Homo sapiens: one gene and its partner. The protein of the gene in region 1 purifies or fractionates together with the protein of each later gene. This does not show direct contact. Each region holds a gene or a part of one and is shown on either strand. Other genes may lie near its edges.

Region 1 (2,758 bases):
GCTCTCCCAGGGTAAGGCTGCCCTCCCCCGTGGCCCCCCACCTCTGCGGTGGCCTGTGGACTCCCATGGACACCCCTCCTTCTCCACCAGATGGCAGCGGCTACGAGAACCCTGAGGATGAGCCCCTGGGTCCTGAGGATGAAGACTCCTTCTCCAACGGTAACTTGGGGCCTTTGTGGGACCTCAGAGACTTAGGTGTAATTGCAGCGCTGTGACACTCCTAGAAGGGGTCCCTGGAGTTCTCTCTCTTCTGCCACAGCTGAGTCTTATGAGAACGAGGATGAAGAGCTGACCCAGCCGGTCGCCAGGACAATGGGTGTGTGTGAGGATGGCAACAGTCCAGGGGGGAGGCGGAGGACACCTGGAGGCCAGGAGGAATAGTAACCTCCCTCTTCCCTTTCCAGACTTCCTGAGCCCTCATGGGTCAGCCTGGGACCCCAGCCGGGAAGCAACCTCCCTGGGTGAGAGATGCTTTCAATCAGACTGCCTTGCCCAGCTTGGGTGACCTGGCCTCAGCTCTGACACCAGATCCAACTTTGACCTGACCCTGACCCCAAACCCGAACCCAATCCTGTGACTCCTCTCACCTCAACACTGAGCCCCATCCCCCATCCTGAGCCCCATCCCCCATCCTGACCCCCAATATTTACCCCCTCCCTAACTGTGAATATCAACACCGATCCCAATGCAGTATCAGCCTGGACTTGATCTCCACCTCACCTCAGCCCCAGTGCAGACCTCAACTTGGACCCCAGCTTACTCTGCAGCTTCTTCATGACTCTGACTCCGACTCCCTCCAGTTTCTTCTTTTTCTTTTTCTTTTTTTTGAGACGGAGTCTCCCTCTGTTGCCCAGGCTGGAGTGCAGTTGCCACCTCTGCCTCCTAGGTTCAAGCGATTCTCATGCCTCAGCCTCCTGAGTAGCTGGGATTATAGACGTTTGCCACCACACCTGGCTAATTTTTGTATTTTCAGTAGAGACAGGGTTTCGCCATGTTGGCCAGACTGGTCTCCAACTCCTGGCCTCTAGTGATCTGCCCGCCTTGGCTTCCCAAAGTGCTGGGATTACAGGCATGAGCCACCACGCCCAGCCCAGTTCTGTTCTTGACCCCTTCCTTAGCCATAATCTAACCCATATCTAACCCTGACCCTACAGCTAACTGGGGCCCCAAACTCAATGCTAACCAAATCACCCCTTCCCAGCACAGCATGGGTAATGCTCCTCACCTTCCTCTGCCCCTCAGTCTTCCTCCTTACCGTAGGCTGTACTTCCCATGCCCTAGCCTCCAATTCTCCATCCCCCGCCCAAGCAGGGTCCCAGTCCTATGAGGATATGAGAGGAATCCTGTATGCAGCCCCCCAGCTCCGCTCCATTCGGGGCCAGCCTGGACCCAATCATGAGGAAGGTGGGTGCTTCTGCCGCTGTCCCCTGCTGTCCCCTGGGCTGACTTTGCCTTCCAGCCTACTTCCAGTGCCACCCATGTTCTCCTCCTCCCTGGTCCTATCCAGATGCAGACTCTTATGAGAACATGGATAATCCCGATGGGCCAGACCCAGCCTGGGGAGGAGGGGGCCGCATGGGCACCTGGAGCACCAGGTGATCCTCAGGTGGCCAGGTGAGCTGGGACTGCCCCTAGGGAAAGCGGGGAGGGAGGGAGATAGGCACGGATGGCAGTGGCTGCTGGCTTTCAGGGAGGGAGAGGGAACAGGGTTCCTAGGGCCTGGTGGGCAGGGGGAGGACTGCTGGACCCCTCCCCATCACCGTTTCTTCTGCATAGCCTGGATCTCCTCAAGTCCCCAAGATTCACACCTGACTCTGAAATCTGAAGACCTCGAGCAGATGATGCCAACCTCTGGAGCAATGTTGCTTAGGATGTGTGCATGTGTGTAAGTGTGTGTGTGTGTGTGTGTGTGTATACATGCCAGTGACACTTCCAGTCCCCTTTGTATTCCTTAAATAAACTCAATGAGCTCTTCCAATCCTATGAAGTAGTGCCATTGTGTGGGAAGGAAGGGAAGGAAAGGAAAGGAAGGAAAGGGAAGGGAAGGAAAGGAAGGGAAGGAAAGGCGTCTTGAATCCCATGGAAGAGGGAGGGCTGCCTTCTGCATACAAAGGGCCTTTTCCCGGTGCGGTGGCCCACACTTGTAATCTCAGCACTTTAGGAGGCCAAGCAGGTGGATCATTTGAGGTCAGGAGTTCGAGACCAGCCTGGTCAACCTGGTGAAACCCCGTCTCTACTAAAAATACAAAAATTAGCTGGGTGTGGTGGCGAGCCTGTAGTCCCAGCTACTTGGGAGGCTGAGGTTGGAGAATCACTTGAACCTGGGAGGCAGAGGTTGCAGTGAGTGGAGATGGTGCCATTACACTTCAGCCTGGGCGACAGAGCGAGACTTCGTCTCAACAAAAAATAAAAATAAAAATAAAACAAAGGGCCTTTCCCCTTCCATGGCCTAGCCTTCACCTACTGCCCTCTTTTGCCCGCTGCCCACAGATCCGTCACGATCAGCCCCCTCCCACCATCCAGCTACCCAATTATCATTAATTCAGCAGTTACATGCTGGGTGCCCAGTGGAGAAACAGCCCAGGAATTAGCAGTCTAGTTAGAAGATGCTATTCATTGTCACTGAGTACTTATTTATTGAGCATCTACTATACTCTTCTTTTTTTTTTTGTTTTTGAGACAGGCTCTCGCTTTGTTGCCCAGGCTGGAGTGCAGTGGTGCAATCATGGCTCACTGCAGCCTCGACCTCCCAGGCTCA
Region 2 (3,822 bases), on another chromosome or scaffold:
TGGCTCATGCCTGTAATCCCAGCACTTTGGGAGGCCAAAGCGGGTGGGTCATCTAAGGTCAGGAATTTGAGACCAGCCTAGCCAACATGTTAAAACCCATCTCTACTAAAAATATAAAAATTAGCCAGGTGTGGTGGCACACACCTGAGGCTGAAGCAAGAGACTCGCTTGAACCAAGGAGATGGAGGTTGTAGTGAGCCAAGATTGTGCCACTGCACTCCACCCTGAGCAACAGAGTGAGACTTCGTCTCAAAAAAAAAGAATCCTTTGAAAATCAGACAAAAGCCACATATCCTCTGCCCAGAGAGTTGTGCGTAAACAGCTCAGTTTTGCTGAAGTGCCAGCAGATGCCCAGATCTAAGTTGCCCTGTTTCTTATCTTTGACCTTTGCTCCTTTCTCTCCTCTGCCCACTAGGCTTGCCTTTCAGCAGAAGACAGCCTGGGTGCCCAGGCTCTGCACAGGGCAGCTGTCACAGGGCAGGACGAAGCCATCCGATTCTTGGTCTCTGAACTTGGCGTCGATGTAGATGTGAGAGCCACATCAACCCACCTCACAGCACTTCATTATGCAGCTAAGGTTTGTTACTTCTTATAACGTTGTCCGAGCTTCCCTGAGGCTTGCCTTACTTCTTTGATCAGTAGCTCTGCAGCCTGGTTTCTTTGACCCCATCTCTATGGAAGAAATTGCCCATGATATTCTTCTGAAATGGTCAGGATTCTGAAGCGCTTTATCTCTTTAAATAGAAACCTGACTTGAATTTGTTGCTAGACAAAACTTTAAAAAAAAGCCTTTTACTCCATAAAGTGCCTCCCCCTCACACACAGGTTTTTGTTTTCAGGAATAACGTTATTTGAAGCTATAAATACCCATTGTATGAAATTCCTGGCTCTCTGTTCTTATACTGGATTTCAGAAGTTAAGAACTCTTCAGCCAGGGCAAGAGAATTGCATTTACTAGGCTCTCTGGGGTATATTGAAGATAAGCAAACATTTTCACTGGAAAAGTAGCTGTTTTAAATGCTAGGAGCGTTTTGCATATTATCCTTAACATTATCTATTGGCTTTATGCTTTTACTTATTTTTTGTTTTTTTTTTTTGGTTTGTTTGTTTGTTTTTGTTTTTGTTTTGAGATAAAGTCTTGCTTTTTTGCCCAGGCTGGATTACAGGTGCCTGCCACCATGCCTGGCTAATTTTTGTATTCTTGGTAGAGACGGGGTTTCACCACGTTGGCCAGGTTGGTCTCGAACTTTTGACCTTGTGATCCACCCACCTCGGCCTCCCAAAGTGCTGGGATTACAGGCGTGAGCCACCATGCCCGGCCTACTTGTTTTTCTGATCAATTACATTTTCCTGCCTGATGTCCTGCTTTCGAGCAGCTGGGTAGATACACATGATGTGCTCTGTGGCCGCAGGGTGCTCCCATAGGAAGAGTGAACCTGGAACCTTAACTGTAGTCTCATCACATAGTAGCAGACTAACTGGCTAGACAAAGAGTGTATAAATTATTTTATAGGCCAGGCGCAGTGGCTCACTCCTGTAATCCCAGCACTTTGGGAGGCCAAGGCGGGCGGATCACGGGGTCAAGAGATCGAGACCGGCCAGGCGCAGTGGCTCAAGCCTGTAATCCCAGCACTTTGGGAGGCTGAGGCAGGTGGATCGTGAGGTCAGGAGATCGAGACCATCCTGGCTAACACGGTGAAACCCCGTCTCTACTAAAAATACAAAAAATTAGCCGGGCATGGTGGCAGGTGCCTGTAGTCCCAGCTACTAGGGAGACTGAGGCAGGAGAATGGTGTGAACCTGGGAGGAGGAGCTTGCAGTGAGCCGAGATCGCACCACCGCACTCCAGCCTGGACGACAGAGTGAGACTGTGTCAAAAAAAAAAAAAAAAAATCAAGACCATCCTGGCCAACATGGTGAAACCCTGTCTCTACTAAAAAATACAAAAAAATTAGCTGGGGGTGGTGACACATGCCACTAGTCCCAGCTACTCAGGAGGCTGAGGCAGAAGGATCGCTTGAACCCGGGAGGTGGAGGTTGCAGTGAGCCAAGATCATGCCACTGCACCCCAGCCAAGCAACAGAGTGAGACTACATCTCAAATATATATATATATATATATATATATATATATATATATATATAAATAATATTTTTATTTTATAAAATATTTATTATAATAATTCCTACTAGCTGTAATAGGAATTCCCATTTATGAGCGGTTATGATCTTTTCTAGTTTATCTCTCCCCTAAAGATTTCAACAAAGAGTATATTTGCTTGGGAAATTTTAGAGTTTTGGGTTCTGTATAAATCACAAGATTTGTACTGCTCACAATGATGGAAACTAACTGCATTGGGTCAGTAATTTGGCTCACAGAGTTGATCATCTATATTCTAATAATTAAATGTCACCAAAATATTTATTTAATGATTTATATTAGAATTGAGAATGATACAATATCTTACTTTAGATATGAAAATTTGGCTGGGCGCAGTGGCTCACACCTGTAATCCCAACACTTTGGGAGGCTGAGACAGGAGGATCCCTTGAGCCCAGAAGTTTGTGATCAGTCTGGACAACATAGTGAGACCTTGTCTCTACAAAAAAAAAAAAAAGAATAAATTAGGGAAAAAAAGATGAAAATTCACTTTTAGCAGTCGACTGTTTTAGAAAAGGTGCCTAATATATGTTAGAGTCTGTGTTTAAAGTGTGAAAGGAAAATAAAAACGTAAGACCCCCAACTCACTCTGCCAAAAGAAAAAAAATTAAGCTGAAAGCTGAGTCATGCAGAAAGCTGCCTTTCCTTTTGTTCCTAAGCAGATAGCTACAGATAAAGGGTTAAATATTTCCACAGGTAGCTACTTTATATTCACCTTATCTTATGTAAAGTGCCAATTTACTGAGTGGAAAGAGATATTTAATGTATCATTGCCTAATCCCCCCCCTGCTCCTTTTATCCTGCAATGTGGATTCAGTAATGTGACCATACCCTCCTCCTCTTCACTCCAGCCCTCTTTTCCCCTTTAAATATTGAAGCCCTCAAAATCATCTTTGGAGAGAGACACAGACCTGTCTCTCAGGTATGTCCTTAACCTTGGCAAAATAAACTTCTAAATTGATTGAGACCTGTCTCAGATACTTTTTGGTTTGCAAAAGGTTTTCTTTTATCCTCATCACAGTGATAACAAATTTGTTTCAATTCAGGAAGGACATACAAGTACAATTCAGACTCTCTTATCCTTGGGAGCTGACATCAATTCTAAAGATGAAAAAAATCGATCAGGTACCGTTTAATTTTATATATGCCTTGGAAATTAGTAAACTGAGTATAACCAATACACTTTTATATTTAAAACAATGATTTTAATATTCTTCCTTTTTTTTTTTTTTTTTTTTTTTTTTTTTAGTGGTGGTGGTGTTGAGACAAGAGTTTCCCTCTGTTGCCCAGGCTGGAGTGCAGTGGCACGCCATCTCAGCTCTCTGCAACATCCACCTCCTGGCTCAAGTGATTCTCATGTCTCAGCCTCCCAAGTAGCTGGAATTACAGGCATGCACCACCATGCCTGGCTAATTTTTGTATTTTTAGTACAGATGGGGTTTCCCTATGTTGGCCAGGCTGGTCTTGAACTCCTGACCTCAAACAATCTACCTGCCTTGGCCTCCCAAAGTGCTGGGATTACAGGCATGAGCCACTGTGACCAGCCTTAATGTTATTCTTCTAATAGCTCAGCTACTTTTCCTTAAAATATCTTTTTCTCTGCAAAGCCTTCATATAATTGTTATTATAACAGTGATGATGACTGCCACTCATTACAACTGC

What was found.
Region 2: the proteins of CD19 (region 1) and ANKRD16 purify together in Homo sapiens (affinity purification with mass spectrometry; one large-scale study listed by BioGRID and IntAct). This does not show direct contact.

Annotation. Positions count from the first base shown.
Region 1 is NC_000016.10:28,937,365-28,940,122, forward strand, and holds the end of CD19 (B-lymphocyte antigen CD19 isoform 2 precursor), read left to right. Parts: coding exon 1-11; intron 12-90; coding exon 91-159; intron 160-259; coding exon 260-316; intron 317-404; coding exon 405-461; intron 462-1,308; coding exon of another isoform or gene 1,309-1,311; coding exon 1,312-1,404; intron 1,405-1,507; coding exon 1,508-1,599; 3' UTR 1,600-1,614; intron 1,615-1,776; 3' UTR 1,777-1,978; downstream 1,979-2,758. UniProt on the Homo sapiens protein: Functions as a coreceptor for the B-cell antigen receptor complex (BCR) on B-lymphocytes. Decreases the threshold for activation of downstream signaling pathways and for triggering B-cell responses to antigens.
Region 2 is NC_000010.11:5,879,761-5,883,582, reverse strand, and holds part of ANKRD16 (ankyrin repeat domain-containing protein 16), read left to right. Parts: intron 1-415; coding exon 416-577; intron 578-3,206; coding exon 3,207-3,285; intron 3,286-3,822. UniProt on the Homo sapiens protein: Required to prevent the misactivation of serine (Ser) with tRNA(Ala) by promoting the hydrolysis of Ser-mischarged tRNA(Ala), thereby playing a role in translational fidelity.